Linked DNA regions of Homo sapiens. The protein of the gene in region 1 interacts with the protein of each later gene in a pairwise test. Each region holds a gene or a part of one and is shown in the gene's direction. Other genes may lie near its edges.

The links.
Region 2: the proteins of USP40 (region 1) and ALDOB interact in a two-hybrid assay, tested with the Homo sapiens proteins (one study listed by BioGRID).
Region 3: the proteins of USP40 (region 1) and HEBP2 interact in a two-hybrid assay, tested with the Homo sapiens proteins (one study listed by BioGRID).
Region 4: the proteins of USP40 (region 1) and OCLN interact in a two-hybrid assay, tested with the Homo sapiens proteins (one study listed by BioGRID).

What each region holds. Positions count from the first base shown.
Region 1 is NC_000002.12:233,474,143-233,480,101, reverse strand, and holds the end of USP40 (ubiquitin carboxyl-terminal hydrolase 40), read left to right. Parts: intron 1-2,598; coding exon 2,599-2,710; 3' UTR 2,711-4,576; downstream 4,577-5,959. UniProt on the Homo sapiens protein: May be catalytically inactive.
Region 2 is NC_000009.12:101,432,381-101,441,464, reverse strand, and holds the start of ALDOB (fructose-bisphosphate aldolase B), read left to right. Parts: upstream 1-5,690; 5' UTR 5,691-5,756; intron 5,757-9,084. UniProt on the Homo sapiens protein: Catalyzes the aldol cleavage of fructose 1,6-biphosphate to form two triosephosphates dihydroxyacetone phosphate and D-glyceraldehyde 3-phosphate in glycolysis as well as the reverse stereospecific aldol addition reaction in gluconeogenesis.
Region 3 is NC_000006.12:138,399,617-138,408,136, forward strand, and holds the start of HEBP2 (heme-binding protein 2), read left to right. Parts: upstream 1-4,606; 5' UTR 4,607-4,879; coding exon 4,880-4,981; intron 4,982-5,528; coding exon 5,529-5,664; intron 5,665-6,354; coding exon 6,355-6,535; intron 6,536-8,520. UniProt on the Homo sapiens protein: Can promote mitochondrial permeability transition and facilitate necrotic cell death under different types of stress conditions.
Region 4 is NC_000005.10:69,544,405-69,552,606, forward strand, and holds part of OCLN (occludin), read left to right. Parts: intron 1-499; coding exon 500-715; intron 716-3,525; coding exon 3,526-3,697; intron 3,698-7,139; coding exon 7,140-7,181; intron 7,182-8,202. UniProt on the Homo sapiens protein: May play a role in the formation and regulation of the tight junction (TJ) paracellular permeability barrier.

The sequences.
Region 1 (5,959 bases):
TGGCAGAAGTGGGGGTTCGAGCGTGGTTAGAGGCTGCTGGAGGGTGTGAAGGGGGACGCGTTGACATGATCACTGGCTGCTTTGTGGTGAGTGGATTCTAGGAGGTAGAAGTAGAATCAGGGAGCCGAGCGAGGAGACTCCCTGAGTGAAGATGGAGGTGGGTAGGGACTGTGTGAGCTCCGCAAGCAGCACGGCCCCTGGGCCAGGGCCCCTTCCTCTCTGCTCTCCGGGGTCTGGGCTGCTTTCCGGACAGCACTGTCCCGTGGCCTTTGCTGACTCCCTAAGGGCCCCGGGAGCCCCAGGATAGCAAAGGACCTGTGCCTGGCCTCACCCCCATTCGCAGCTCTGCAGCCCTCAGGTCCTGGTGCCCTCAGAGACCTGGGATATGGGAGAGGGGCTGCAGCGCTGGCTGCTTCGGGGGTTTTCCTGTTTAAAGGTCAGACACACACACACACACACACACACACACACACGTAAAATTCTATACGTGTCTAATACATAGACACTAAAATACTGTTTTCCAAATTTTTTTTTTTTTTTGCGACGGAGTCCCACCTTGTCGCCAGGCTGGAGTGCAGTGGCACGATCTCAACCCACTTCAACCTCCGCCTCCCGGGTTCAAGCGATTCTCCTGCCTCAGTCTCCCAAGTAGCTGGTACTACAGGCGTGCACCACTATGCCCAGCTAATTTTTGTATTTTTAGTAGAGACGAGGTTTCACCATGTTGGCCAGGATGGTCTCAATCTCTTGACCTTGTGATCAGCCCGCCTTGGCCTCCCAAAGTACTGGGATTACAGGCGTGAGCCACCGCGCCTGGCTCTGTTTCCACATTTAAATGTGATGCCACTGACTTCATCAGACTTCTCCAAGCATCCTCTCTGTCAAAGCCTTAGTTGTCACCAGGGCTGTTATTTGGAGACATCCAATAGTTCCCCAGGCCCTGGGAGCTCCATTGTCATCTGTGCTGTTTGAGATAGCACATTTTAAAAATTCATGGTGCTGTCACTGAAAACCTCATCTTAAGCCTCACACGTGCTGTTTGCACAACAGTAGACCACTGGTGTCTTCTGAACACCGTGATGTAACCACTTACTATATTGTTTTTCATTTTTTTTTGGAGTTAATAGTGTCACGTGCTTTCAAAAGCCACCAAAGAGGTTCACTGAGAAATCTCTGCACCTCCCTCCCCAGGTACACAGCCTCTCCTAGATGGGCCAGCGTGACCGTCACCTGCATGTCCTTTCAGAGACCTGTGTATAGGGGCAGAGAAGCTTTCCTTTCTCTTTTGACCAGAACTTTCTTGGTAACCTTGCTGTTTTCATGTACCAGTGTGTACTCAGCTGCCCCGTCTCATGGTGGGAGCGTGGTGTCCTGATGCATGGGTAGACCACAGCTTAGGTGACTTATGCCCACCTCACACACTTCCAGGCTGTCGCCAATCTGTCACCATCACAGTGAATAACCTTGTATATTCACCATTTTGCAGTACAGATGTGGATATATCTGTAGGACAGATTTCTGCAATGGAATTGCTAGGTCAGAGGGTATGGCTGTAAACATTATCTGCAAATAAGAAAAAGACAACCAATCCAATAAAAATGTAGGTAAAGGGTATGAACAGTTCATAGAAAAGGAACTGCAAATCGCTTGCCAGCATATAAAAATATGCTCAGCCATTCACTCATGATAAAAGAGGTGTAAATTCAAGCTACTCCGAGACAGTGCCACATGCCTATTGGCAACACTAAAGTGGGAAAGACTCGTGTGTTGAGGACGCAGAGTCACTGGGGCTCTCATCCCCTGTGTGTGGGTGTGGAATTGGCACAGACACTTTGGAACTCAGGACAGTACCTCCTGCTGCATCTGCTGGGCACTTCCCGGTACCCAGCCTTCTACTCCTCAAAAACATGGACGCGTGCCTACCAGGATATCCCCAAAATTACAAGGCAGCTTCATTCACCATGGCCAGATTCTGGCCGTATTGAAGGAAAGGCTGCTCAGCAGTGGGATGGCGGGTGGGCCGCGGAGGCTTTCTGTCGGGGACTGTGCAGCGTGGGTGGGCCACACACATCAGGCTGGGCCAAAGCACCCGGCCGCAGAGCACCTGCCGCACGGTGCCATGGGCCGGGGGGGTCACAGCGAAAGCCAGTCTCTTGAGTGGGATGCCAAGTGGCCTGTCTCTCCGGGCAAGACTGAAGGGGCAGAGGCAGCCTCTGCATCATGTCACACAGGTGTGCGTGATTGTGACGAGTCGTGCAGCGGTGTGTGTGCACTCCGGATGTTATTCTTCCGTTTAAAAAGTACGGAAAGGAAGGTTTCTCAGCTGTGAGGCATTTTCACTGAGCAGATTGAGAAAGCCCCAGAGCCTGAACCATGCCGTGCTGCCAGTGCAAAGCAGGGGAAGGCAGCTGGCCTGGCACAGGGCTGGTGGCAGGGCAAAATGGGGCCCTCTGGCAGGTGGCTGAGATCTGTCTGTGCAATTGCAAATGCACGTCCTTGTGGCCTATAAAATTGGAGTGTATTTTGGGGTCTTCGTGAACCCCTCACCCTGACACCCACTGCATCCATGAGTCAATGACAGTGTCTGTGTCTCTGCAGCCAAGAAGCCCTCCATGAGCAGAGCAGCTACATCCTCTCCAGTGCAGAGACGCCTGCCCGGCCCCGAGCCCCGGAAACTTCTCTCTCCATCCACGTGGGGAGCTTCAGATAACCGCGCCGCTGCACGGCTCTACTCCCGATGAACTCTCCGGCTGATGCCACAAACGTGGGTTTCCTGGGCATGGGGACTGGCTGCCTGGCGCCTCCAATCCCAAATCCTCTGCTTCCTTTGAGCACAGGGACGGCTCCTCTGAGGCCTGGCCAGTGCATGTAGTCACTTAGCTCTGCAACACGTGGCAGCCACGGGGGCTGGTGCAGCTCTGGATGTCGCCCACCCAGCTGCCAGTAGGTGCTGGGCTCTCTCACACAGCACCCGGCCCCAGCTGCCTTTTTTTTTCTTTTAACCAGAAAATGCACAACGTGTGCGTGAACCGCAGGTATGGAGGCAGCGGCATGCCGTTGCTCCGCTGTGGGAGGTGTGTGGGGTCAGGCCAGCCACTTTCCTCCGTGTTCAGATGACTCTCGTTCGCCCTGACCGGCTTCTCACAGTGTCTCAGGCCACTGCGCCACCGCGCTGGTGCTGAGCAGAAGCGGGCAGAAGTGGGGTCTGCTTTCAGGACTTCATTTCCCCCACTCGTTCCGGCCCCGCATGCTCCACGTCTGCCCTTTGGTCTGAGTTAAAACTGCGATGCTGAAAAGTGCGAGCTCTTTCCACGAGGAGGAGCCACACAGGGTGGCCTCCGAGGGTGAGTCGCTCTGCTAAGCAAGGGCAGCCGCTGCACGTCAGCCCGCAGGCCAAGGGTCCAGCTTATCCTGGGTGCTCTGTGATCAGAAGGTCCTTGGATCCCGAGGACTGCAGCTGCTGCCGTCCACAGCGCCTCAGCCTCTCTTCCTGTGTGGAAGCGGGGCAGGCAGGGCTGTGGCAGACAGGCCTGGCATAGCCCAGGTTCCAGGTGTCCTGGGCAGCCTGACCGGTTTCCTGAGTAGCCTCAATGAAAACACCTGAGAAAAAGAAAATGTAAACTAAGGAAGGGTTTTCCCACTTAATCCAACCCAGATTTCTATTCAACTTAAAGGATTTAATTGGCATTTGTGAGAAATAATAGTACCTGTGTCACTGAGTTGATTGATTTGGGACATAGACGGTTGACTTTCCCAGACAGCAGCTTAGCGGAAAGCAGCATCCCGAAGACGGTGTCGCATGTCCTGAGCCTGCTTGTCACCTGGGCCTCACGGTTTCTCGTCAGCCCCGTCACTGATGGGAAGCAGCACTGAAGTGTGAGGGCAGAAAGGACACCGCTGGAGTCAGGCGCTCCCCTGCCTGTGACCCTTTTCCAACAAGCTGATGCTGAGCCAGCGGCCTGCTTTGTCCCTCATACTCCTCCCAACAGTCCAAACCCCTACCAGACAGAAGCCACGTCGCTTCTGCACACGTGTCTGAGAGCGTCTGCCATAGACGTCTGTGCGTTTCCGTGAAGCACTGCGCCCTAAGGACCCAACTCTGACTAGCAGCTGCCTCCCACTCCCAAACACTAACCCCGCTCAGGAGACTCGCACTGGGTGTAGACTGCGTCTTTGCAGAGGGAGATGATAGAGGCTTCTGATGACGCCAGAGCTGTAAGTGTCGTGACGAGCTGGGCGCCCAGCCCTTCTTAAGCTGTTCTGTTTCTGTGGCTTTAACTGACATATTTCTGTAGCATCTGCCTTCATCTCATCTCAGCGTAATGAAATATTAATGAAATCGCTGAAAAGCTTTGCCTTCGAGAGGCCAGAAGCCTCGCGGAATGTCTGCAAGTCCAAAGACGCGTGTGGGTTGTGCCCTGAAGTGCCGTCCAGCAGGCGCGTGCGGCCGGGCCGGCCTGTGCGTGTGGCCTTTGCCTTCTTCCCTTTCTTCCTGTTTTCTGTTTTTTTAATTTGGGGATTGAGAAAGCTGTACGATTTTGTTAAAGAAAAAAATAAACCATTTTTTAAAGTTGTAGCCCTTAGCTGCTTTTGGTTGCCGGCTACTTCGTGCCCAGCTTGCTTAAGAGAGGAACTTTTGGCCGGGCGCGGTGGCTCACGCCTGTAATCCCAGCACTTTGGGAGGCCAAGGCGGGTGGATCATTTGAGGTCAGGAGTGTAAAACCAGCCTGGCTGACATGGTGAAACCCTGTCTCTCCTAAAAGTACAAAAAATTATCTGGGCATGGTGGCGGGCGCCTGTAGTCCCAGCCACTCGGGAGGCTGAGGCAGGAGAATCGTCTGAACCCAGGAAGCAGAGGTTGCAGTGCGCCAAGATCGTGCCACTGCACTCCAGCCTGGGTGACAGAGCGAGACTCCGTCTCAAAAAAAATACATAAATAAAATAAGGAACGTTTGTGGCCCTTTTTCCCAAGCCTGCTTCAGATGCTAAATAAACAGTTTATATTTAGAAATACTGCAGCAGTGCTGCTTTAGAAATAACAAGTTTGCTTTGGTTTTAAAAAGTTCAGACTCATGGGAAAAATGCACTGGAAGAAACTGGATGTAATCAATCTGGTTTTATTTTCCTTCTATGGAAATACGTAATGGTGGTGTCGTCACAGAAAACATACTTATTCAACAGTGACTTTTTCTAGCCAAAAAAGGGAGGGGCAAGAATTCCCTTGCAAATCATTTTGGCGCCATCGATGTGAGTTTAACCTGCAGAACAGACTTAACAGTGAGGGACCAACTTACAACAGCCCCTTCACCCTACAGGTCCATCATTCTGTTCTGTTCTGGATAACGCACCCACCCAAAGCATGGCCATACCAGGGTTCAATAAAATCCATAACAAACGCATTCTGGGTGAAGCGGTGACCTCAGTATCCAAGTAAAGAGAGACTGCTTCCAGCTCCCTCTGGCCGCTGCCCTCCCCCACTCCCACCACACACGCCCACGTGCTGCCATGCGTCCAGGTCCCTGTGGCAATGGCTGCAGAGTGTGGCAGACAGGGCCCTTCATCTGCAGGTCCTTGCCCCGACTTGGGGTGGCAGGAGCAGACACGGCAATCTCCCGGCTCAGGAAACAAGAGACCACCAATGAGCTCACACCAGGCTGGGGCGGGGCCAGACGAGTGCTCAGGGGACAGTGGTGCCTCTGCCACGCCCCAGTGTGCTGCTCTGAGGTGGTTCTGTCTCCGCAGGCACCTCCCCAGGTGCCGAGACGCCACCAGCAGCTCCATCACACGAGGCAGCCACCAAGTGCCTCTTTCTACAAACCAGTGAAAGCCCTGGGCCCTAAGTGGGTGATGTCCGTGGGCTCCATGGAATGACAGTCGGGGGAGAGGGGAAGGTGCATTGCCCAGAGCTTCCAGGTGCCCATGTCCTTCACACGCATGTGCTTCAAAGATGGCAGCACCC
Region 2 (9,084 bases), on another chromosome or scaffold:
AGTACGTGCTCAACTAATGGGAATACGCTCCAGTGGGCAATGTCATCAAGGCAAAGCTAGGGCCAAAACCTTGTTTTCTGATTCTCAAACTTGTGTGTGCATGCGTGTGTGTGTGTGTGTGTGTGCATGTGTATGTGCACACACAGGCATCAGCTGTGTAATGCTCGCTTTATAATATTTTACACTTATGTAGGTCTTCGTAGTTTTCAGAGCACTAATTTACATGATATCGTTTGATCACCGCAACAACACAGTAAAATTAGGCAGTAGTGGTATTATCAGGCCACTTTACACGTTAGAGAAGGGAGGCTGGGAAAAGCTGACTTTGTTCAGCTCCATGGCCAGTCAACAGCAGAACTGGACTCAGCACCCACATACCTCATGCCTCCTTATCTAGAGATTTTTCCACCCTAGCAAAAGGCCATCTCACCTTAATGCCAAAGAGTTTTATGAAAGTTTTATGAAAGAGTTTCTGAAAAGTTGTTATAAGGAAGAGTGAAATAAATACTGTGCTGGGGGTCATAAATGACCTAGGTAATTAACAACCTGATTAGATAGGGAAAAACTGAACTTTGAGATGATTGAGCAAAAGACAAAGAGAAAACACTGACAAGGCAGTTAACAACCCAATTCAAAGACATATGGAGAAATGGGGGTTGGTGGACACTTCAGACCACTGTGTAACTCTTTCCTGTCAGCTAAATACTCGTCACTGAGTGTGAAATTATTTCCTGTTCACTCTGCCTCTGCAACATCCTAACTGCATGTCCATATTTCCTCAGACAAGGAAATCCTCCAGTTCTTCAACATACTTCAAGCATCAGCTTTACTCTTTAGTCAAAGGGGTATTTTTAAGCCCCACAATTTGGATACTATTGAATTTACTTACCCTGGATACTTGAATATACAAGGCACTCTAGTGTTCCTAGAATACACAGAGTTCAGATTTCTTAGTGATGAAGAGCATCTAAAAAAATTACCACAAGGAAATGAAATGGGACCCATGACTCTTTCATTCTCATATCTGCTGCACCCCAGTGGCTGTTGCTCCTGGACTTCATGGTGGTGCTTTAAAACTATTTATACCGTCAGATTTGGAGCATCTTAAAAACCTACCACATCTCTCTCACAAACTGACATCTAATACTCTGATTCTATGAACAGACTAAAAAAACCATTGGAGTGTACATTTTAAGTGGGTGAATTGTATCTATGTGAATTCTATCTCAATAAAACCGTAAAAGAATTGAAAGCAGAGTCTAAATAAAGATATTTGTACACCCATGTTCATAGCAGCATTATTCACAATAGCCAAAAGGTAGAAGCAACCCGAGTGTCTATCAACAGACGAATGGATAAACAAAATGCAGCATACAATGGAATATTATTCAGCTTTAAAAAGGAAGGAAATTCTGACACACACTACAATGTGGATGAAACTTGAGGACATTGTACCAAGTGAAATAAGCCAGACACAAAAAGACAACAACTCTATGATTTCACTTACGTGAGGTACATAGTGTAGTCAAATTGATAGAGACAGAAAGCAGAATGGTGGTTGCTAGGGGGTGGTGGGGAGGATGAATGGAGAGTTGTTGTTTAATGGTATAGAGTTTTAATTTTGCAAGATGAAAAGAGTTCTGAAGATTGGTTGCCCAACAATGTGAATACACTTAATGCTACTAATCTGAACACTTAAAAATGGCTAAGATGGTAAATTTTGTGTTATGTGTGTTGTACCAGAATTTACTGAAAGTAGGGAGGCTGTGGTTCTTGTGTACCATTGCAAGGCACTACAGCCTGGATTCCTGTGAAATTCCAAATGAGCAATGATAGAAGAGTTTTCAGAACCTAGTATAGTTTTAGAAGAAAGGAATGTTCATACTCTACTTATTATTTATTTCAAAGTTCTCTGGGATGAGAATTATAAGCCAGTTACTCTAGACTTTTCTGAGATTGATACTAATATACACCTATATTGATACTCATATATCTATTGATTCATTTATTCCACAAAAGTTGATTGGTGTCTAGGCATAGTGCTGGATAATGAGGAAACATTGGTAAGACATTACTACCCCCTACCCCCCTAGGTCTTACAGTCTGACAGATTGAATCAATTGACTTGGCCTTGTAAAAAATCTCGAATATTTGGGCTTTTCATAGGACTTTTCTTTAATGTTACTTCACACAGTCATCCATAAATGCTGCAGTGACAACAGCAGCAACAACAACAACAATCTCTTGGTGTTTTTATGTACATTCTTGTATTTGGTTTGATTTTATTTGATTCTCAACTTCAATCTTCTCTTCCTTTTAGAATGCAGGTTTCTTGAGAATAGGCCAGTCTTACTCACCTCGTATCCTCTAAAAAGTCTCCATAGCTAACAAAATGCCTTATACACATAACAGCAAAACACTTTTGAGAGCCATGCTGAGAAAACATAGCTCTATCTCTAGACCAAAGTAATAACTACTGATTTTGGGGTCCTGAAACTATTCCAACCACCAAAGCAGATTGCAATATGATAAGGAAATATCTGTACCACAGTTTGGAAAATATATTTTAAAATGCCAATCGTGATTCTTCCAGTTGCATTGTGTAATGTGGTCTCTTTTTATGAAAGTTCTTTCTCTATAATATTGCTAATTCTACAGTAAGTGTAACTCTATAATATGTGAGATTTATTTGCATGTAGAAGTTTGCTTATGACTCAGACCTCATGTTATGCATTAATAACACATTTATCTCATGGCCTGTGGATTGACTTATATAGATATCACATTCAAACCAGAAGAAATATCTAGAGTTGGGCAGGGAGTAGAGAATAAGCGAGGCTGTTGTTAGAAGTATTGACTGTAACGATCATGAATAGTATTGTTGTTACATTGCCTATTTTAAGATCCTACAATCAAAGGCCTCTAAACCAGTTATGCATTCAGATCTAGCTATTTAATGAAAACCTATTCTGTACAAAGTGCCACTCATATATTATTTCATTCATGCTTCATAATACATTTCTGATAGAGGCATTCCTAGTTCATTTTACAGATGGGGAAACTGTGGACTAAGGTTGAAGAACTTCCCAGTGTTTCACAGCCTCCAAGTCCAATGCTGTTTCCACATATAATACTCAATTTTGAACATTGTATTGTGTTAGGAGACTTAACAAAAATAAAAATAAAAACAAAAACCCTGCAAGCAGTGTATGTTGGTCAAGAGTTGCTGTTTCTCTAAGGTCCAGTAAGCCCTTAGCTTTGTTTTCCTGAACTTTGAGTTTCAGTTGCACATCAAGCCCCAGAGGTGGGCAAATGCTGATGCTACAAGAACAGCAGCAAGTGGCAGCACTCAGGGCAGGAGTACTCATGCTGTTCTGACATTCCTAGCCAGGCTGTTGTTCACATGGAGCCATGCCCAGCTCACCAAGGACACCTACGTCTGCTGACGCAAGTCATTCCTCCCTGATTAATGAAAGTTTAATGTCCAAGGTTATAAACTGCTGAGAAGGCAATAGGGAAAGAGCTAATTTATGAGTCTGCAGTTACCAAAATGTAAGCAGCTCTGCTTTAGATCACTGTCTTGGAATGAGACAAACTCTCCAGCTACCTGTACTGTGACTCTAGACAAGTTACTTGCCCTCTCTGAACCAGAGTTTTGTTATGCATAAAATGGGGGTAATAAGCGTTTCTTCAGAGAGTCGCTGATATTGGAGATAATTTATGAAAAGAACCAGGTACATCATAGACTCTCAAAAAAAGGATAGCTATTATTGTTGTATAACAAGAATAATTAGTACTAGTAGCATCTCTCAGCAGGTAGAATGTTTTAGCTATGGTTCTGACTACCCCAGCCCTGACTCCTAACAACTTTCATTACACCCACTCTCTATTCTTTCATCACCATCCACCTCTTGTTCCTCCATTCTCCTTTACCAAAAATCATAGAGGATGAAACCTCACATAGCCCCAAAGCTGGTCACATTGGTCTGACAAATATGGTAGCAGGTGCTTCAATGAGCCCAGTTGAAGATGGGGAAACCAGGAAATGTGCCATCAGATACTAAGTGGAGTCAAGGGAGCTGATAGGACCTTTCCCTGGTCTATCCCTCTACTATCCTCAGGACAGGGCTTGGTGGGAACTTCCCTAGCCAAATGAGCCTCAATATTGTGTTTCAAATACTTCAATTTCCTTCAATATTCACATTCAGTGATGAATACTTACTGTTCTCAGAAGCCTTTGTTTTCAGGAAAAACTTGATGGTGGCTGAAAACATGATGGCTCTGCTTGGAGGGAAATGCTTGTTTTCCTCTCTCTAAGTATAAATGCTCATTCACACCTTTCCTGGCTTTTTGAGAGGTGGCAAAATGCCCAAGATTGATTGCCAGTTACTTGTGTTACCTGAATGAGGCCCTTGTGAGTCTCTGATCTAGGAAAAACAACCAAAACTAAACCAAAACTCTTTTTAGATCACCTAGTTCCGTTTATTTTTTCCTTCATTTTGTTGACATTTCACCTTTTCATCCATAAATTCTGGTGTTACACTCTGCACAATCAAGCATCTTAGTTTTGTTTTCCATTTTATGAATTATTCCAGAGGAACATGTTCATGAGAATTTACCCTTTTTTGTAATTACGGTCATTCCATCACTTTTAGATTTCCCTCATTTATTTGCCTCATTCATCATTTGCCTCTGGAAGCATATAATATTTTTATTTACCTTTTCTGGAATTAAATTTGGGTTTCATACTTAGGAAAAAGCCCTGCAGAATGAACCCATACCCAGACAGTACCATATTTAGGGGTGTTGATGGCTTAGTTCAATCACTTTAATTCTAGTTTTTAACCAAATTTGAAGACAAAAGTACAAAGGTTAAAAGAGAATGGGAATACAAAACAATGATTTCTGGCATTAAATACATCAGAAAGCCCAGCTAGGTTTTGGAGGACTGGAGAAGATGGGAGAGACAATGATTTTTAAAAACAGAATGTTTTGAATTTTATTTCCAATTTGGACAAAATTCACACATGGGAAATTCAAGGATTCAGAATCAATTTCTTTTATTGAAAGATTATTTAAATTTAACTATAAATTATAGAATAAATTGTTGGAATTGACTACTAATGATATACTGAAGATAAATAATGAAAATATAGCATTGATTACCTAATTTGGAAATAATAATTCTTGAATGCCTACTGCGTACAGACACTATACAACTCACTTAATGCTCCTGTGAAATTGAGATCCCACTTTACAGAGAAGAAAATAACGGCTCAGACAAGTAAAAAACAAAACCAAAAACCCGTCACCAAGTTCATGTGTTTTGTAAGTGTTACAGCTACACTAACATTCTTCCTAGTATCATTTAATGGACCCTAGAGCTCCATCATTGACTAGCTGTATGACTTAAGGGAACCTCCTTATCTTCCTTGCCTTAGTTTCCTCATCTGTGAAATGGAGGGTCTGGATTAGGAACTCCACGGTCTAAAGACATTCCTTGCAGCTTTAACATTCTATGAGCATAAGGAGTATATGGGCATGATTTTAAGGACTGGTTGTTTATGAGCCAATCAGAGGTGTTGAATAAACACCTCCCTACTAGGTCAAGGTAGAAAGGGGAGGGCAAATATTGGAAAAAAAAAACATGATGAGAAGTCTATAAAAATTGTGTGCTACCAAAGATCTGTCTTATTTGGCAGCTGCTGCCTCACCCACAGCTTTTGATATCTAGGAGGACTCTTCTCTCCCAAACTGTAAGTAAAAAAGCTTCCTTTGTATACCTGGACAGCACCAGTGAATAAGGGGTTAATAATACTACTAAGCTTATAGAAGGGAAGATTGGTTTGCCTTTGTTTTCGGGAAAAACTTGATGGTGGCTGAAAACATGATGGCTCTGCTTGGAGGGAAATGCTTGTTTTCCTCTCTCTAAGTATAAATGCTCATTCACACCTTTCCTGACTTTTTGAGAGGTGGCAAAATGCCCAAGATTGATTGCCAGTTACTTGTGTTACCTGAATGAGGCCCTTGTGAGTCTCTGATCTAGGAAAAACAACTTGAACACTCCTATCGTTAGGTTCTAATCAGTTTTTGAGATTCCTGTTCATTTCAACTCTCAACTCTCTTTTCATAACAACTACTTATTTTAGTGATTTATTTACATATCTACTGCCTTATGTCATTTTCTACATTCTCTTCCCACACCTACTGGTACCGACACTGAAGTTTCTTTGTCACAGAAACAAACCCTTGGAGTATTTTGCCCTTCGCCTTCACCCACTGCTCAAATGAGGAAATGCAACAGGGTTGGAAACTTCACAGAGCATAGTCATCATTTGATTATGAATTTCCAAACCCTTCATGTTTGACACTTTCTAGAACATTTCCTGCTGGCCCCAGACACTGTGAAGACCCTACAGCTTAAGATAGTAGGAATCAAAAGGTTGTGTATTTTGATACATTTGCTCTACTATCTGAAAAATAGGCATTGTGAGAATATGTTGCCTTTTTAAAAAATAACTTCTCTTTAAATAGTTACCTAGGGCTCCATTAGACAATTTGGATGCACCAGAGCTTGAACTCTGCTACCCTGCTATTCATCACTTTAGCTAAGGCACATCTGGGTAGCACCCAGGCCCAGGTTAGAGCCAGAGATACTGGGGCAGGGAATGGGGAAATGTTGAATATCTAAGAGGTCCTTTGGCTTCATTCCAAGTTTAGAGGAAAGAGCACCATTCAGGACTCGTTCTGGGCTGCTCCGCGTGTGTTAAAGGGCACTGGAAATCAGGCTGTCCTAGGACTGCCCTAGATCATCCCACTGCACTTGTCACTGGGACATTGGGGTGGATAATGAAGCTATTGGCAGCTTTAAGCATCATGTACAAAAGTGCTGCATGCAGTGCCTAGAAATCATGGGCTATCAATAAATAAGCCTCCTCATATTTGCCTTAAAAATCCATTTGTCTTGTACATAGAGAAGCAAATGAACTTTCTGCTGCCTTCTATTTCTCCAGGAATTAAATATCCATGTTACAAATAATTATGTTTTCACAGAACATCTTCAAGGAAGGCAGAAAGAACCATACCATAGGATTCTACCTGCTATTTTGCTGAAGGATTAGAAATAGAATTCTAAGTCATAAGCCAATAGGATGTAACTTGCAATCCTAGAACATCACAACTTAGAAGGCACATCAGACATAGTCTCTCTGGCTTTAGTTTCCTCATCTCTAAAGTGACAGGGTTGACGCAGGTATCTCTGAGGTCATTTGTAGCTCTGTTTTTCTGTGGTTACCTTCTGTTGTTAATACAACTTTCCTCCAGATTTATATACATATTACTTGTTACACATATGTAATAAAGTGCGTGATAAAGAATGTATAAAATGAAATGTGGCCGGGTGCAGTGGCTCATGCCTGTAATCCCAGCACTTTGCGAGGCCAAGGTGGGAGGATCGCGTGAACTCAGGAGTTCAAGACAAGCCTGGGCAACATAGCAAGACTTTGTTTATACCAAAAATAAAAAAAAAAATAGCTGGGCATGGTGGCAGGCGCCTGTAGTTTCAGCTGCTTGGTGTCTGAGGTGGGAAGATCACTTGAGCCCAGGAGGACGAGGCTTCAGTGAGTCATGATTGTGCCAGTGCACTCCAGGCTAGGCAACAGAGCAAGACTCTGTCTCAGAAAATAAAAAAGAAAGAAAGAAAAAGAAAAGAAATGTGAGAATCTCTCCACCCTACCCCATTCTTCAGAGGTAACTCCAGAGTTGTTACTCTTTGTTTATATAGACACAAAAACAGTATGGGTATATATCATTTTTTAATTAAAAAATAGGAGGACAGTATATATTGCATACTTCTCTGAAACTTGTTTTTCATTTAATAATATAATGTGAACAACTTCCATCACACTGAAAAAAGTTGGCTTGAGATCTGAGAGAGCAGAGGCTTAGGAGTACGGAAATCGTTCTTTGTCATTACCCATCCCAGGTTGTCCTCCTGTCTCCTTGTGGTGAACATTGGCCTGTGACCCTGTTTTATGATTAACAGAGAGGTGACATTTGTGCTAACGTGGTACAGACCTTTAATCCCACTGTAGAAGTTTAACTCCCTGTAAACAGTATTAGTTTGAATTATCATTTTCACTGTTATTCTGGTTGAGTCAGCATACCCAGATTGAAGAAAATAGTTTAGTAATAGGCAGTAAACAGAAAAATGGAGGTCACTTAGGTGATTTTTTTCATTAAAAAAAGAGAATTAGTAATACATTGCATTTTATAGTGCTTTGTAAAGAATCTTCATGTTTATCATGCAATTTAACAAATATATTTTGAGCAACTACAATGAGCAGGGTGCTCATAGATGGCATTTGAGTTACCTGGCAAAGAGACAACCAGAACAGTTATTATCACCATTTAATCCATAGTAAACTGAGACTCAGGAAGCTGCCTGACTTGCCTGAGGTTCCAGCTAGATTAGGCAGAGCTGGTTCTTAAAACTAGGTCTGTCTGATCTGCTAGCAGCAAACCTCTACATAAATGTGTCAGATGTTTATGAATAAGTAATGTCCATGGTGTAATCACCCACAGCGTAAGGTACTCTGGGGTGTCATCAAGGACATTAGGAGTCATCCAAAGGCCATTTTTTTCATCAAGCTCACTCTTTCCCTTGAATGGAAAGGAGTACTGCCCCTTATCTCAACTTGATGCCTTATTAGCTATTTGTCCTTGGATAAATAATTTACACTCTCTTATATTCTTTCCTAATCTATTAAATGGGAGGGGAAAAGAGCCCAACCACCTTCTGGGATTATTTTCAAGAAAAATTATATAGTGCATGTAAAGCCATTAGCAGAGTGCTTGACAATACATGATCACTTGTTGTTATTATTATTATTGGGCTGATTTTCCCTTTTGTTTCATTAAGAAAATATCTTTCTTTCTTGGTAATTGTCAACTCCTTTGTACAAATGCCTAAACTGAGAGAGAAAGTTTGCACCTTGCTCTGAAGATCACACCCAGGTTGGCTTTTTTCAGCATGATGATCTGGAGGCCAGGTCCAAAGCTAAAAGTCTTTGACTCCAATATTAC
Region 3 (8,520 bases), on another chromosome or scaffold:
GATTTCTTAAGCAATGAAGTAAATTACATCCTTTTTCTTTTTTTAAAAAAAACCTGTGATAAAGTTATATTTTCAACTTTGCAAAGTCACCTAAGCAATGGATCACATCTGTTACCTAGTTAAACGAAACAAGCTATTTTTTAAAATAAGTTAAAAATTCATTATTTAGCCTTTACTAAGTAAATCGAACTTAGTTCTGCATAATAATAGATCTGACAGAACCACTAGAAAGTGCCATGAGTCCTCAGGCCACTGCACAGTTGTTGGGGCAGGAAAGGGCAAGGAAAAGAGAAGACATCAATTGCTTTAGAAGCACTAGGCCCATACAATGGGGTATTTCTGGCAATTAAAAAAAAATTAAGTACTGGTACATGCTACAACATAGATGAAAACATTACACTAAGAGCAAGCAGCCAGTCACAAAATATCGCATATTACTTTTGTTGGTTTGTTTGTTTGTTTTGAGACAGAGTTTCACTCCTGTTGCCCAGGCTGGAGTGCAATGGCGGGATCTTGGCTCACTGCAATCTCTGCCTCCCGGGTTCAAGCGATTCTCCTGCTTCAGCCTCCCAAGTAACTGGGACTACAGGCGTCCGCCACCACACCTGGCTAATTTTGTATTTTTAGTAGAGATGGGGTTTCTCCATGTTGGTCAGGCTGGTCTCGAACTCCCAACCTCGGGTGATCCGCCCTCCTCGGCCTCCCAAAGTGCTGGAATTACAGGCGTGAGTGACAACACCTGGCCTAAATATCACATATTATAATACATGATTCCATTTGTACGAAATATCCAGAAGAGGCAAATCCATAGAGACAGAAAGTAGGTTAGTGGCTGCAAGGGGTTGGGGCAAGGGAGATGAAGAGTGACTGCTAAGCTACATGGAGTTTCTGTTTGGACTGACGGAATGTTCTATAATTAGAATTAGATAGTAGTCATGATGTTTGTACAACACAGTGAATATACTAAAAACCACTGAATTGTACACTTTAAAATAGTGACTGATGCTATGTGAATCATATCTCAAAAAATATTTTAAAGCACCAGGTGCACTGTTTTAGTCTATTTTCTATTGCTGATAACAGAAAATCTGAATCTGGGTAATTTATAAATAAAAAGAATTTATTTCCTATGGTTATGGAGGTTGGGAAGTTCAAGGTCAAGGGGCCACATCTGGTGAGGGCCTTCCTGCTGGTGGGGACTCTCTTCAGAGTTCCGTGACAGCACAGAGCATTACATGGTGACGGGGCTCAGTGTGCTAGCACAGGTCTCTCTTCTTCCTCTTATAAAACCACAAGTCCCATTCTCGTGCTAACCCAATAATCCATTAACCCATTAACCCATGAATGGATTAATTTCAGAGCCCTCATCACTCAATCACCTCTTAAGGCCCCATCTTTCAATACTGCCCTATTGGGGATTCAGTTTCAACATGAGTTTCTGAAGAGATGAACATTCAAACCATAGCATACACCCACTAGGATGATTATAATCCAAAAGCCAGATAAAAACACGTGTTGATGGGGATGTGGAGAAATAGAATGCTCACACCTTGTTAGTGAGAATGTGAAGTGGCGAAAAAACAGTCTGGCAGTTTCTCAGAAAGTTAAACATAGAGTTACCATTTGACCCAGAACTTCTACTCCTAGATGTTTACCCAAGAGACATGAAAACATACATGCACACAGAAACATGTACATAAACATGTAGAGCAGCTTTATTTATAATAGCCAAAAGTTGAAAATGGCCCAAATGTCCCTCATCTGATAAGTTGATAAAATGTTTATCCAATGGACTATTAATCAGCTATAAAAAGAAATGGAGTACCTGCCACAACACAGATGAACCTCGAAAACACTTTGCCAAGTTAAAGAAACCAGTCACAAAGGACCACGTACTATTATGAGTCCATTCATATGAAATGTTCCAAATAGACAAAACTATAGAGACAGAGAACAAATTAGTAGTTGTCTAGGCATAGGGAATGGGGAATTGGGAGGTGGTGGCTAAAGGTTATAGAGTTTCTTTAAGGGTGGGAAGTGATGAAAATGTTCTCACCTTGTGATGATGGTTGCCCAGTCCTTGTGATGATGGTTGCCCAGATCTAAAGATCCTAAAAACCATTGACTAGTACACTTTAAATGGGTGAACTATATGGTATATGAATTATATCTTAATAAATCTCTTGGAAAAAATAAAGAATACATCTAACAAAAAAAAATTTAAGGGATATTTATTCCTTTTCCAATTGTTATAATAAAACCAGGTGGAAGAGAATGGTTGTAGCAGTTAGAAAAAAAAAGAATACAAATCTGGGGTTTGGCCATTAAAAGTTATTCATAAAAATGAGAGAAGAAAAGGCAAGAAGAAGTTATTTCACATTACAGACCTCTCCCTGGCCCCAAAGCCTAACATGTGCTTACCGAGTCAAAAAAGAGACACAGTTGATTCACAAGCTGAAGGTTGGAACTTGAATAGAACCCTAGGCAGGGCAGTGCCCCCCTGCCCGGCCCAGGTGCCACTAGGCACAGCACCAGAGTAAAAACTCAACAGCGGGGAGGCCGGACCCTCGAGGTTTGGGAGTTTAAGCACCCAACTTCTGGCTCAGGGATTTGGGGAGTAGGGTAAACAAAACCTACTTGGAAAAGAATTGGGGAAGAAAACCAAAAATTGCCTTCTGCAGGGCTGGGGACAGGGAAGGAGGCAGGGCCAGGGAAAGGCACATTTCATATCACTAATCTAACTTGGGAGGCTGTGGGGGACCGTCTTCAACTGGCCTTACGAGGAAAGCCACATGGCCGATTGGAGAATCCACAGGAGGGAGAGAAGGAAAGGGAATGTAGCTGGTAGGATGCAATAGCCCCTTCCTTTCTGGGCACAGGAGGGCAGCCAGGGCACCAGGTCCAGGCAGTAACCTCACAAGAACAGCAGTTTTTGCAGCTTAGAGATCACCCACCTGGCCCACCCAGCTACTCATTCTGCTCAGCGTGGGCTGGTGTAGGGCCACTCTCCGCCCCGAGGGAGTGGACAGCTCTGTAGCTTGGGGCCCTGCCTCTTCTTCTGAGGCAGTACTGCCTCTGCGCCCTTGGCCTGGGGCTCCTGGCTCTCAGGGGTGGCAACAGCCTTCCCTTCCTGGGCAGCGCCCTTGTCGCTGCAGGCATTGATCTTCCCCCACTCCTGTTCTTCCTCCATAGGTGAGGAGGCAGAAGAGTCACCCCACCCTCCTTCCCATTTCTCTTGAAGGACAAGCTGCTCTTAGAAACCCTTCTTGAAAGATAATTATTTATTTATTTATTTATTTATTTATTTATTTATTTATTTATTTATTTTAGACAGGGTATCACTCTGTTACCCAAGCTAGAGTGCAGTGGCGCAATCTCGGCTCACTGCAGCTTCGACCTCCCCAGGCTCAAGCCGATCCTCCCACCTCAGCCTCCCGAGTAGCTGAGATCACAACCCCAGCACACTCAGCTTTTTTTTTTTTTTTTTTTTTTTTGGAAGGCAGCTATGCTCTCCACTCTACTATCAACGCTATTTTATTGTATTTTTGTAGAGACGGGTTTTCGCCATGTTGCCCAGTCTGGTCTCGAACTCCTGGGCTCAAGCGATCACCCCTGTCTTGGCCTCCCAAAATGAAGGGATTACAGGCGTGAGCCACCGTGCCTGGCCTTGAAAGGCAATTTCGTCTTCTTGGAAGTCTCCTTGCGAGGGAGGGAGCCTCCCCTTTGGCCTCAGCACCCTGGCTAGGGGGTGCTGGCTCCATGGCATTGCCAATGGTCCCGGCTGCCTCTTCTGTTCACAGGGGCCTACTCCCCTTCACCCTTGGGGGATGTCACCATTGCTTTTCACGTGGCCACCCTCCTGTCCGTTGGCTTTCGCGTGGGGAGTGCCTGCTGCCTCTGCGGCGGTCACGTCGCCCCGGAGAGCCTCGGAGCTCTGGCTGCCCACGATGGGAGTCCTCTGGGGGGCGCCGGAGCCGTGCCGGGTCCCCGCCGCAGGGGACAGTAACGCGGAGTCGGCCTGGCCGGCGGAAAGGGGGTGCTGGGGAACAGAGCCGCACCCCACTCGGCTCGGGAAAGCCCTGGTAACCAAAATTCTTGAAAAGCACTAGTGTCTGGCCTCGGCACTAACTCTCCCCGAGTCTCGTTAAGCCTGCGGGGATGACTCAGAGGGTCTGGGGTCCTGTCGGGGAAAAGTTCAGAAACCAGAACAGTTCCAGATTCTCTCCATGTGTCTGTGGTCCCACCACCTCCTCCGCAAGGGACCCTGAAAGCTGTCTGGGACCTAGGACAACTTCTTGGGATGAGTACGGCCATTCGCCCTGGCTGAGCCCCAGGAGTGCGGGCAGGGGCCGCGGGGGTCGGGTCGCCAGCCGCCACCTCCTGCCTTTCTCTGCCTGCGGTGCGCTGGGACACCCTCGAGGCGGCTCAGCGCCCGCGGTTCCCAGCGCGGGCGGGGCCGCGGCAGAGGTTCCCAAACCGGTTGCACAGAAACAGCGCCACCCCCTACTGCCCGCGGGGCCACCTGTGTGTGCCTTTCCTTCAAAAACAAAGGCGGGGCGGGGGCGGAAGTGCCTCAAAAGAAGGCGGGCCGAAGCGAGGTGCGGCTCCCTGTCGCCGCGGAGGGGCGGGGGCAGGACGCGCAACTCCGGCCGGAGCTGTCCGGGGTCGTGAGCCGGCCCCGCCTTGGTGGCGGCGCCCCCTCGCGGTCCAGAGGCAGACGCATCGGGTGGGCTCGGGTCTCCAGCCCGGCCGGGAGGAGGGACCGGGTCTGCGGAGCGGGGACTCGGGGCCTCGGCGGGGCGCGCACACGCAGGCGGGGCGGCCCGGGGTGCGGGGCCTCTGCGCGGCTGACCAGGCTCCCAGAGCGTCAGCGCCGCCCATGGCCGAGCCGCTCCAGCCAGACCCCGGGGCGGCCGAGGACGCGGCGGCCCAAGCTGTGGAGACGCCGGGCTGGAAGGCCCCGGAGGACGCCGGCCCCCAGGTAGGCGCCGACTCGGGAGCGGAGGGGCTGGGCCCGCCTTCCGGCTGATTTGCAGTGAGGCCAGCGGGTCCCATAGAGTTAAGTAAAAAGTACAGTTTTTTAAATGGTCCCAGTCCCTACCCACTATGCTACGCAAACGAGAAACCCCGGTCATTTAGCTCTACCCTCCCCGCTACCCCCAGTGCAGGTCCCATCTCAATTTCTTGTCTTTGCGGGGTGGTGGGGCGGGGAGGAACTGGTTACGTCCCAGAACGCGCGGTGGAACCCTCCGAACCGAGGGGGTGTAATAGATGCTTGTCTGAAAGTGTGAATCGAGTCCCCAGCGTGTGGGGTTGGGGCCGCTGCGGTCCCTAATCGCAAGGAGGGGAACCTCGTGGAGGGGAACCTCCCAGACCTAAGGAGCGGGGACCTCAGGCCGGACCCCGGGGCGGTGCAGCCCCTAGACAGGACGGCTCCAGGTCGACCCGAGATCATGGCACCGGTATTTTTGCATCTCACTCCTACCCTCTTAGAATTGCTTCTCGAAGTTTTCTCTGTTCCACTTTAGCCCGGAAGTTATGAGATCCGACACTATGGACCAGCCAAGTGGGTCAGCACGTCCGTGGAGTCTATGGACTGGGATTCAGCCATCCAGACGGGCTTTACGAAACTGAACAGCTACATTCAAGGCAAAAACGAGAAAGGTAAAAGCAGTTTTCCTTGTAATTATGCATATTGTGAAAGAGTCCCCGGGCTTATTATTGAGTTTTAGCTTATTAAAGAAATATCCTTTATAATGGAAAAATAAGCAAGTCATCAAAGACTTGTCTTGTTTTCAGACAAGACTCCTCAGGACCAGGGTTACACTGGGTATTACTTTTCAACCTCTGTTCTCTGATTTTGCTGGATGAACTGGGGTTTGGTGTAACTCGTGATAAGTCCTTTTCTATGGCTAACACCTCAAGATAATTTGGTGACTGGTAGGATCAGAGACGTCAGGAGGCAAGAAGGTACCAAGATTAGAAGCATCAAGTCATAGCTTTTGGTCTGGCTTTGCTGCTATTTATATTTTAGCAGGTCTCTTAGCCTGTGGGACCTCATTTTCTGAATGGTAAGAAAAAATAATTTACTGACCATGTAATCTCTAATTTCCCCTTTTATCTCTAAAAATTAAGAATTTATTAACCCAGAATATCAGTATTACAGAAAGTGGTTTAATGTGGGCAGTGAGCAATTGAGTAATTTTGGCCTTACTGTTTTAAGATGAAAATTATCTTAAAGGTAAATATGTCAACAATGTGAAGTAAATCAAGGAACCCAGATCAAAAAAGAATAGGTTAAATGTTTAAAGCTGTCAAAAATACACTAAATTTGCTTTCATTTTTATGTCACAGAGATGAAAATAAAGATGACAGCTCCAGTGACAAGCTACGTGGAGCCTGGTTCAGGTCCTTTTAGTGAGTCTACCATTACCATTTCCCTGTATATTCCCTCTGAACAGCAATTTGATCCACCCAGGCCTTTAGAGTCAGATGTCTTCATTGAAGATAGAGCCGAAATGACTGTGTTTGTACGGTAAGTGGTAGATAATTTATAGCCTTGCTGACTGCTAGTTTTACTTGCGTGCACTCACAGTTTAGCTCCAATGCAATTTCAAAAGGCTTTTTCACCCTTCCATAAAATCAGGTCTAATGCATTTTGTGATGTTTTCCTACTGGCTTTGTTGTATATGTTACTGAGGTCTGTCACAAGATAATAATCACTTCATTTAATGAGTCTATTGCATGCCCTTCATATAAGACACGGTGCAAATTATATGCTCCCAAAACAAAAGACTGCAATATAGTTAGACCTGAACAAAAATACCTTAAAACAGAAGTCTTAGTTTGTTCAGGCTGTTGTAACAAAATACCGTAGGCTGGGTAGTTTATGAAAAACAGAAATTTCTCTCTCACATTTCTGGAGACAAGGAAGTTCAAGTTTAAGGTGCTGGCAGTTTCAGTGACTGGTGAGGGCCCGTTTCCTGGTTCATAGATGGAACCTTCTCAGAAATGCCCTCATGTGGTGGAAGAGGCAAGGCAGCTTTATTGGACATGTTTTACAAGGCTCTACCCTCATGACCTAATCACTTTCCAAAGGCCTCATCTCCTAATACTATCACATTAGTGATTAGGTTTTCAAAATATGAATTTTGAGGCCCAGCACTTTGGGAGGCTGAGGCAGGTGGATCACTTGAGCCTGGGAGTTAGAGACCAGCCTGGGCAACATGGCAAGGCCCCATCTCTACCAAATGTATATATATATATTAGCCAGGCCTGGTGGCACATGCCTGTGGTCCCAGCTACTTGGGAGGCTGAGGTAGGAGGATCACTTGGGCCCAGGAGGTCGAGGCTGCAGTGAGCCGTAATTGCACCAATGCACTCCAGCCTGGGTGACTGAGACCCTGTCTCAACAAAAAGAAAAATGTATATATGAATTTTGGGGAGACACAAACATAGAGTTCATAGCATTCTGCCCTGATCCTGTAAAATTCATATCATCTCACATGCAGAATACATTCATTCTATCCCAATAGCCTCAAAAGTCTTAATTCATTCCAGCAAAAGCCTAAATTCATCTAAAGATCATCAAAATCAAATCTGAGGCTCAAGGTACAGTTCATCCTGCGGCCGATTCCCCTCCATCTATGAACCTGTGAAATCAAACATATTATATGCTTCCAAAATACAATGGTGGGACAGACATAGGATAAATACTGCATTCCAAAGGAAGAAATGGGAAAAAAGAAATGGGTAACAGGTTCCAAGTAAGTTCTAAATCTTCAGATTAATTTTCTTTGACTCAAAGCTCTTCCCTCTGGGCCCACTGGGATGAAGGTCCCACTTGTGAAGCTCTGCTGAACAGAGGTTGGGCCCCCAAGGCTTCAAGTGGCCCTGGCCATGGCTTTGGATGGCCCAACCCCACTGCAGCTCTCACAGTTGGAGGGACCCCACCCTGCAGCTCTACCAGGCTCGAATTGCACACCGGTGGCCCTCCCAGTCTGGTGTGCCCGGCTCCCATGGCTCTGTTAGCCATTTCCCTATTGGGGACTCACTGCAGTAGCTTGGTCTCACTGTGGCCCTCTGCTTGGGTCACATACCCAAGGCCCTGGGCAGCTCCATCCTTCAAGGTGGAGGTAGCCACACCCCCACAGCTCATGTACTGACAGAGGTCGGCACCACATGGATGCTGCTGAGGTTAACTGCCTGTGCCTTCCGGAGGGACAGACATCACAGCCCAGGCCACACCTCAGCCCACTGGAGCTGAACCTGGGGCATCCAAGGAGGGCTGCACTGGAATGCAGGAAACAGATTGGTGAGGCAGTGCTAGGCAGTGAGTTCCAAGGCCCCCCAGGTGCCCAAAGACCCTCCTTTGAAATTGTTCTGCCCTCCCCAGGCACTGAAACTTGGCATGTGATGGGAGAGGCAGCTCATAATTTCTAAAATGCCTTTGGCATCGTTCTTCCATTATGCTGGAGAATAGGTCCTGGTTTCTGTTTAGATGGCAGTTCCACATTCATC
Region 4 (8,202 bases), on another chromosome or scaffold:
ATTTAGTTTATTTTGCAAGATTTTATCTTAATATGATAATTGATATATGGTAGTATAAGATCAATATTACAAAGAGCATGTGTGCATTCTTCCCCATGCAGCATTCCAGGGAACTAGAAGAGCCTGTAGAAAAGAATGATCACTGTTTTCCTGACAGCCTTTGTAGAGTAAGTCCCTGGCACAGGTCAAGTAAACACCTCTTATAGATCAGCCTGAACTTTTTAAAATGAAATCTGAGATCCATTGTACTTAGAAGGTATAAAAATGGCTACTCCCCTTTAAATTGGAACCTACTACTTGTGTGTATTAGAGGACTCTGAACTGCTGTCAAATTGAATGCAGAAAACGAGGCATCTGCTCAGTGTTGAACATCTGAAGTCCTCGCGTGAGTGCACCTGCGTGCAGATGTCTGCTGGTGTTTATTATGGCTGTGCTCTGTGATTACAGTGCACTGGCAAAGGGCTGTAGTGTACTGAACAATGATGCCTGTTTTTATTAGGGTTCCTGAAGTGGTTCAGGAGCTTCCATTAACTTCGCCTGTGGATGACTTCAGGCAGCCTCGTTACAGCAGCGGTGGTAACTTTGAGACACCTTCAAAAAGAGCACCTGCAAAGGGAAGAGCAGGAAGGTCAAAGAGAACAGAGCAAGATCACTATGAGACAGACTACACAACTGGCGGCGAGTCCTGTGATGAGCTGGAGGAGGACTGGATCAGGTACCGACTCAGCTCTCCTTTCCTGGCCCACGTGCTCCTTCTGATAATTAAAGGAGACCAACCAGGTGTTGGAGTTATTGCCTCCCAAATTGAGGTCACTGGTGTAATTTCATTCTTTGCCAACCAGGACTGGAGACAGTTTTTTGTGTGGTGTTGGCTGGTTTTTTCCTTAGCACCCTTTTGTGACAAAGTTTGAAGTGGAGAGAATGTTTGGCAGTAACCATGTCTTTGAACTTTGGCAGTAACCACTTTGAACTTTCCACAGTGTGGCTGGTGAACTTCACCAGTGCTCTTTCTTATACCAATAGTCACGGAAGAAAGATGTCCTAGCACTTTGGGAGGCTAAGGCTAAGAGTTCAAGACCAGCCAGGCATAGTGGTGTGGGCCTGTAGTTCCAGCTACTCGGGAGGCTGAGGCTGAGGCAGGAGGATTGCTTAAGCCCAGGAGTTCAAGGCTGCAGTGAGCTATAATTGCATCATTGCACCCCAGGCTGGGTGATAGAGCTAGACCCTATCTCAAAAAACAACCAAAGGCCTTTCAAATAAATAAAATCCAGGTATAGAAGAACTTTGTTTTACTAATTATAAAATTCCCAAACCAGTGCTATGGTTTTCCTTTGGCATTACTTTTTTTTTTTGAGACGGAGTCTTGCTCTGTCGCCCAGGCTGGAGTGCAATGGCACGATCTCGGCTCGGTGCAACCTCTGCCTTCCGGGTTCAAGCAATTCCTGCCTCAGCCTACCAAGTAGCTGGGATTACAGGCGCCCACCACCATGCCCGGCTAATTATTGTATTTTTAGTAGAGACGGGTTTCACCATGTTGGCCAGGCTGATCTTGAAAATCCTGACCTCAGATGATCTCCCTGCCTCGGCCTCCCAAAGTGCTGGGATTACAGGAGTGAGCCACCGCGCCTGGCCGGCAATTATTTTTTAAATTAAGCTTAAAATGATAAGACGAGAGTTTCTTTTAAAGTTTAATCCAAAGAGTTCCGTAAACAATTGAGGTAACAATTTAGTGTTCAGCCACAGTTGTGGTTAAGTTTCTTTGTGTTTTGGTGGTTTTGTTACAATCCATCCACCATCACCAAATGTATTTGTGTATGATGTGTAGCCTTCCTATGCCCAAGTATTCTGAGGACTAAGACGCACATCAGAAACATTTGCAATGTGAATGGTAATCAAAACATCGCTTCTCAGAGAGTGAGGAATGATAGGCGGGGCATGGGTAGCTTGAGATCCCCTATTCACTGATGATTCTGATACTTTATCTTCCCCTCTCCCCTCAAGAGTTTTTGGCCTGGCTTAGCCATCTATCTGTAAAATATTCACCTAACTTGTATCACGGAAGATTTAACTGAAAACTTTATATATTTTTTTGAGATAGAGTCTCACTCTGTTGCCCAGGCTGGAGTGCAGTGGCACGATCTTGGCTCACTGCAACCTCCGCCTCCCAGGTTCAAGCAATCCTCCTGCCTCAGCCTCCCGAAGAGCTGGGATTACAGGCATGCGCCACCACACCCGGCTAATTTTTGTAGTTTTAATAGAGACAGGGTTTCACCATGTTGGCTGGGCTGGTCTCAAACTCCTGACCTCAGGTGATCCACCCACCTCGGCCTCCCAAAGTGCTGGGATTACAGGGGTGAGCTACCATGCCCAGCCTGAAAATTTTCAAAATCTGAAATTCTTGTTTCCCTTTTGATCAAATCATTTAAATTTCTCCCCTCTGTAAAATGAAGATGTTAGATTGTTAGATCTAAAATTTGAAATTCCACATCATTGTGAAACTCCAGTCCTGTGAAAGGATTCAGAGTATTTTCTCTATGGATTATGGGTTAATGGCATCGTCTTCCTATGTAAGGAGTGGCTGGTATATTGAGAAATAGATGTGATACAAAATTTCAGTTTTTCTTCTTTATACTTTAATGAATTGCCAGATTATTTTAACAGTGAGCACATGTTTTTATACATGTACATTTTTAATGTCTATTTTTATTGTGAAAGAAGTAGATAAGCTATTTCCACTTCGGAAAAACAAGAGCAAAAAAATAAATAAACCAGTCTGAAAACTATGGGTGGTAGCAGGAAACAGCCACTTCCAGTCAGCTGTGCTGCCACTGTGGTGATCAAAGCGGACTTTGTGTTCCAGAATTCCAGTTTTAAGACTTTAAACAGGCCAGGCATGGTGGCTCACTCCTGTAATCCCAGCACTTTGGGAGGCTGAGGCAGGTGGATCACCTGAGGTCAGGAGTTTGAGACTAGCCTGGCCAACATGGTGAAACCCTGTCTCTACTAAAATACAAAAATTAGCCGGGCGTGGTGGCAGGCACCTGTAATCCCAGCTACTGTGGAGACTGAGGCACGAAAATCGCTTGAACCCGGGAGGTGGAGGTTGCAGTGAGCCGAGATTGTGCCACTGCACTCCATCCTGGGTGACAGAGCAGGCTTTGTCTCAAAAAAAAAAAAAAAAGAAAAGAAAAACTTTATAAACATAAGTAGTCCATTATTGATATTGTGTATGGGAAATAAGTGAGTTCCTATGACTTGTACCTTCAATTTTGTAAATGATTTTCAAAATTATTTCTGCAAATTACGTAGGCATAGTTTTTATTTTTTAAAAAATGAGCAGTAATATATAGTCACTCTTAATAGAACTTATTTGTATTCTCTCTCTCTTTCCCCATAAGAAACAAAAACGAAACAAGAAAATGTCATTCTCCATACCCAACCAGCTTTATTATCTTTGAGGAAGGAGCATTGAATTTTATGTCTGCTAAGGATACATATGTAGTCATTTTCTCTCTCACCTTTTAGGGAATATCCACCTATCACTTCAGATCAACAAAGACAACTGTACAAGAGGAATTTTGACACTGGCCTACAGGAATACAAGAGCTTACAATCAGAACTTGATGAGATCAATAAAGAACTCTCCCGTTTGGATAAAGAATTGGATGACTATAGAGAAGAAAGTGAAGAGTACATGGTAAATTCAACCTGATATTTATATATTAAACAGAATTTGAATCTAATCTGTGGAGGTACAGCATCCTTTATATTAATGTTGATAAAAATGTGCTAGTAGTTATCAAACTGCAGTTTCATTGAAGAATAGTTGAGATTGGGTTTTGGATGAAATTCTTTCCTAATAGAAGATTGTACTAATGTATAATAGTTAATAATTACAAAGCACTATTCTGTTTTTTTTTTTTTTTTGAGGTGGAGTCTCGTTCTGTTGCCCAGGCTGGAGTGCAGTGGCGTGATCTCAGCTCACTGCAAGCTCTGCCTCCCGGGTTCACGCCATTCTCCTGACTCAGCCTCCCAAGTAGCTGGGATTACAGGTGCCTGCCACCACGCCCGGCTAATTTTTTGTATTTTTTTTTTTTAGTAGAGACGGGGTTTCACCATGTTAGCCAGGATGGTCTCGATCTCCTGACCTCGTGATCTGCCCGTCTTAGCCTCCCAAAGTGCTGGGATTACAGGCGTGAGCCACCGCGCCCAGCCCCTACAAAGCACTATTCTATGTACATCTATCCTTTCCTATTTAAAATAAAATAGCCAGGCTGGGCATGGTGGCTCATGGCTATAATCCCCACACTTTGGGAGGCCAAGGCAAGTGGATCACCTGAGGTCAGGAGTTAGAGAATAGCGTGCCTAACATGGTGAAACCCCATCTCTACTAAAAATACAAAAAATAGCAGGGCATGGTGGCAGACACCTGTAATCCCAGCTACTCGGGGAGGCTGAGACAGGAGAATTGCTTGAACCTGGGATGGGGGAGGTTGCAGTGAGCCAAGATTGCGCCATTGCACTCCAGCCTGGGCGACAGAGTGAGACTCCATCTCAAAAATTAATAATAATAATAATAAAATAGCCTTATTATCTTTCCTATTTATAAAGCCATTCATTCTTTCTGTAGAAAAGAACTTAAGCGGCCGGGCACGGTGGCTAATGCCTGTAATCCCAGCACTTTGGGAGGCCGAGGTGGGCGGATCATGAGGTCAGGAGATCGAGACCATCCTGGCTAACACAGTGAAACCCCGTCTCTACTAAAAAAAAAAAAAAAATACAAAAAATTAGCCAGGTATGGTGGCGGGTACTTGTAGTCTCAGCTACTTGGGAGGCTGAGGCAGGAGAATGGTGTGAACCCAGGAGGCGGAGCTTGCAGTGAGCCAAGATCGCGCCACTGCACTCCAGCCTGAGTGACAGAGTGAGACTCCATCTCAAAAAAAAAAAAAAAAAAAAAAAGAACTTAAGTAACACAGAACTGTATACAGAAAAAGAAATCATCTTAAATCCTACCATCAAGAAATCCTTATCACCAAAATATTAGTTAAAACAATCTCTCCAAGCAGGAGTCACCAAGGCACATACACCTTTCTTTAAGGAAACATCATCTTCCATGTTTCACTTATTTTCTTCCTGTCTTTTAAATCAACAGTTTATGGGTTTTTTTTTTCCCTCCCTTGATCACCTGGCTGAGATAGAATTTGTCCATGTAAAGTTACTGGATTTTTTTTTCAATCCATCCTTTTCATACTGTATTTTGTATACATACTGAAATTAATGTAGTTACACCACCTTTTAGAGGGAGATTAATCTCTTCTTGTTTATTTGTTCCTTTATTGATCAGTCAATCACTTACGTAAGTATGGACTTTACAGATACCTGTTTTATACTGTGAATTATAATCCAAGGCTGCTTTATTTTGTAGCTCTAATTGTTCTCGCTTTGACGGTTGGGAACTTTCAGTTGCTTCCCGTGTCCCTTTGACATACTCTTATTGTGGGGTTTTATCTTTAAAAAAAAAACAAACAAAAAAACTTCCTTGCACTGCTTATTTCTGGCTTTTCTTAACAGCAAGTTTTTTTTTTTATATCAATAATAAAGACCTACTTACTTTTAAGTTTTTTATGTGTAAAATTAGGTAAACAACTTTCAAATTTATGGTTGTATCATAATTTAAGAGTCATTTTCTATGGATAGACATTTAAGTATGTCTCCCCCTACTCCAGTAGTACCAGTATATACTGGTGAACCTCTCTGTTTTTGCACTCTTGTCTACTTATCTAATTTTTTTTTTTTTTTTTTTTTGAGACGGAGTCTTGCTCTGTCGCCCAGGCTGGAGTGCAGTGGCGCTATCTTGGCTCACTGCAACCTTCGCCTCCTAGGTTCAAGTGATTCTCCCGCCTCAGCCTCCCGAGTAGCTGGGATTACAGGCATGTGGCACCACACCTGACTAATTTTTGTATTTTTAGTAGAGACGGGGTTTTGCCATGTTGGTCAGGCTAGCCTCGAACTCCTGACCTCAGGTGATCTGCCTGCCTTGGCCTCCCAAAGTGCTGGAATTACGTGTGTGAGCCACAGTGCCCAGCCTGCTTATCTAACTAAAACTAATTCCAGAATGTGAAATTGCTGAGAGTCAGAGGGTACGTACCTTTGCAAAGTTGCAAAATTGCCCTCCAGAGAGACTGCACCAACTGTGTCTCCCTCTTGATACAATACAGGACTCATTTGATGCACATCTCATTAAATATTCTGCCATTTTTCAGTTGAGGTGATCTACTTTTTAGTTTTGACGTATTCACATCTTTATATAGTTAGATTTATGTATTTCTTTTATGGTTTCTATAGGGTGTTATAGATCTTTCTTAATTTAGTGAACATTTATTGATCACTTATTTTTCTTTGATGATGTGGAAATGCTGGAGCTAGAGACATAAAATCTTGTCCCCACCCTAAAAGAGCTTATATTTTAAGAAAAAAAACCTGACATCTAAACAATTTAGACAGTATGATTAATGCTGTATTTGCATCATGTGTAGAAAGCACTATAACTAACTGCTCATAGAAGAAATAAAGTCTTTGGAGGCTTCACAGTGAGGGAATCGTTAAGAGCTTTCCAGACAGAAGGGTGCGGGGAGGTGCATGATTACAGCCATAAGGAAAACATGATTGAAATCCTGAAGCATTTAACATGTCTCAGTTTTTAAAGGAGTTGCTGATGATGGGTACTGAGACTGGAAAGGTAGGAAACTGGATGAGGGGAGAAGTTAATGGGAAGCTCAGACCAGTTGTGTAGTGGGATATTACCTGATCAGCGAGCGCTCTGTGTTATAAAAGATCTTCCTGGTGTCAATGTAGCATGGGGACTGGCATGAGGAGAGATGAGAAGTAGCAGAACAGATAGTTACCTGCCTATGTGAGTGAAATGTGAAAGATACAGTATCATAAATGTCTCTTCACTGAATTCCTTCAGACCTTCCTGCTGATCATGAGTTTTAAGAGCTTTACGACTTCATTCTTTTAATTGCTTATATTTTTGTCATAAGCTGTCATTTTTAGCTCCAAAGTATAACATCAGGAATGTTACTTTTAAAAGAGAAAATGCCCCAGTAAACATATTCCTTTGTGTCTGTCGTTAATAGGCTGCTGCTGATGAATACAATAGACTGAAGCAAGTGAAGGGAGTAAGTATCCGAGATTGTTCTTTTAGGAAGAACTTTCTTTCTTCTTCTTTTTATTTTAATTCCCATACCTACTCATCTGGAGGAAGAGCTTTTCTATTACATGTTTTTCATTTTTTATTTTATATATTTTTTAAAAGTTGAAGTATACATACAGAAAAGTGTATAAATCAAAGTGTATAACATGGTGAATTTTCACAATGTGACCACATACCTGCGTATGCAGATCAAGAAATATATTTCCCAGTACCTCCCCACCCCCAGCACCCCCACCCTCACTTGTACTACTTTCCAGTGTTTACACTCTCTCCAGAGGGGTCCATCATGCTCACTTCTAACATCATAGAGTTTTGTCTATCTTGCACATTACATAAATGGAACCACACAGTATGTATTTTGTGTGTGATTTCTTTTGCTCAGTATAGTGTTTGTAAGGGTCCATTTGTAGTTCATTACTATTATTTTTTTTAGACGGAGTCTTGCTCTGTTGCCCAGGATGGAGTGCAGTGGCGCAGTCTCAGCTCACTGCAACTTCCGCCTCCCAGGTTCAAGCAATTCTCCTGCCTCAGCCTAGCTGGGATTGCAAGCACGCACCACCATGCCTGGCTAATTTTTGTATTTTTAGTAAAGACATGGTTTCACCACATTGGCCAGGCTGGTCTTGAACTCCCAACCTCAGGTGATCCCCCTGCCTTGGCCTCACAAAGTGCTGGGATTACATGCATGAGCCACCATGCCCGGCCATGGTTCATTAATTTTTTTTTTTTTCCTGAGACAGTGTCTCGCTCTGTCGCCCAGGCTGGAGTGCAGTGGCACAATCTCGGCTCACTGCAACCTCTGCCTCCTGGGTTCAAGCAATTCTCCTGCCTCAGCCTCCCGAGCCACTGGGATTACAGGCAAGCACCACCACACCTGGCTAATTTTCCTATTTTTAGTAGAGATGGGGTTTTACCATGTTGGCCAGGCAGGTCTCAAATTCCTGGCCTCAAGTGATCCACCTGCCTCCGCCTCCGAAAGTGCTGGG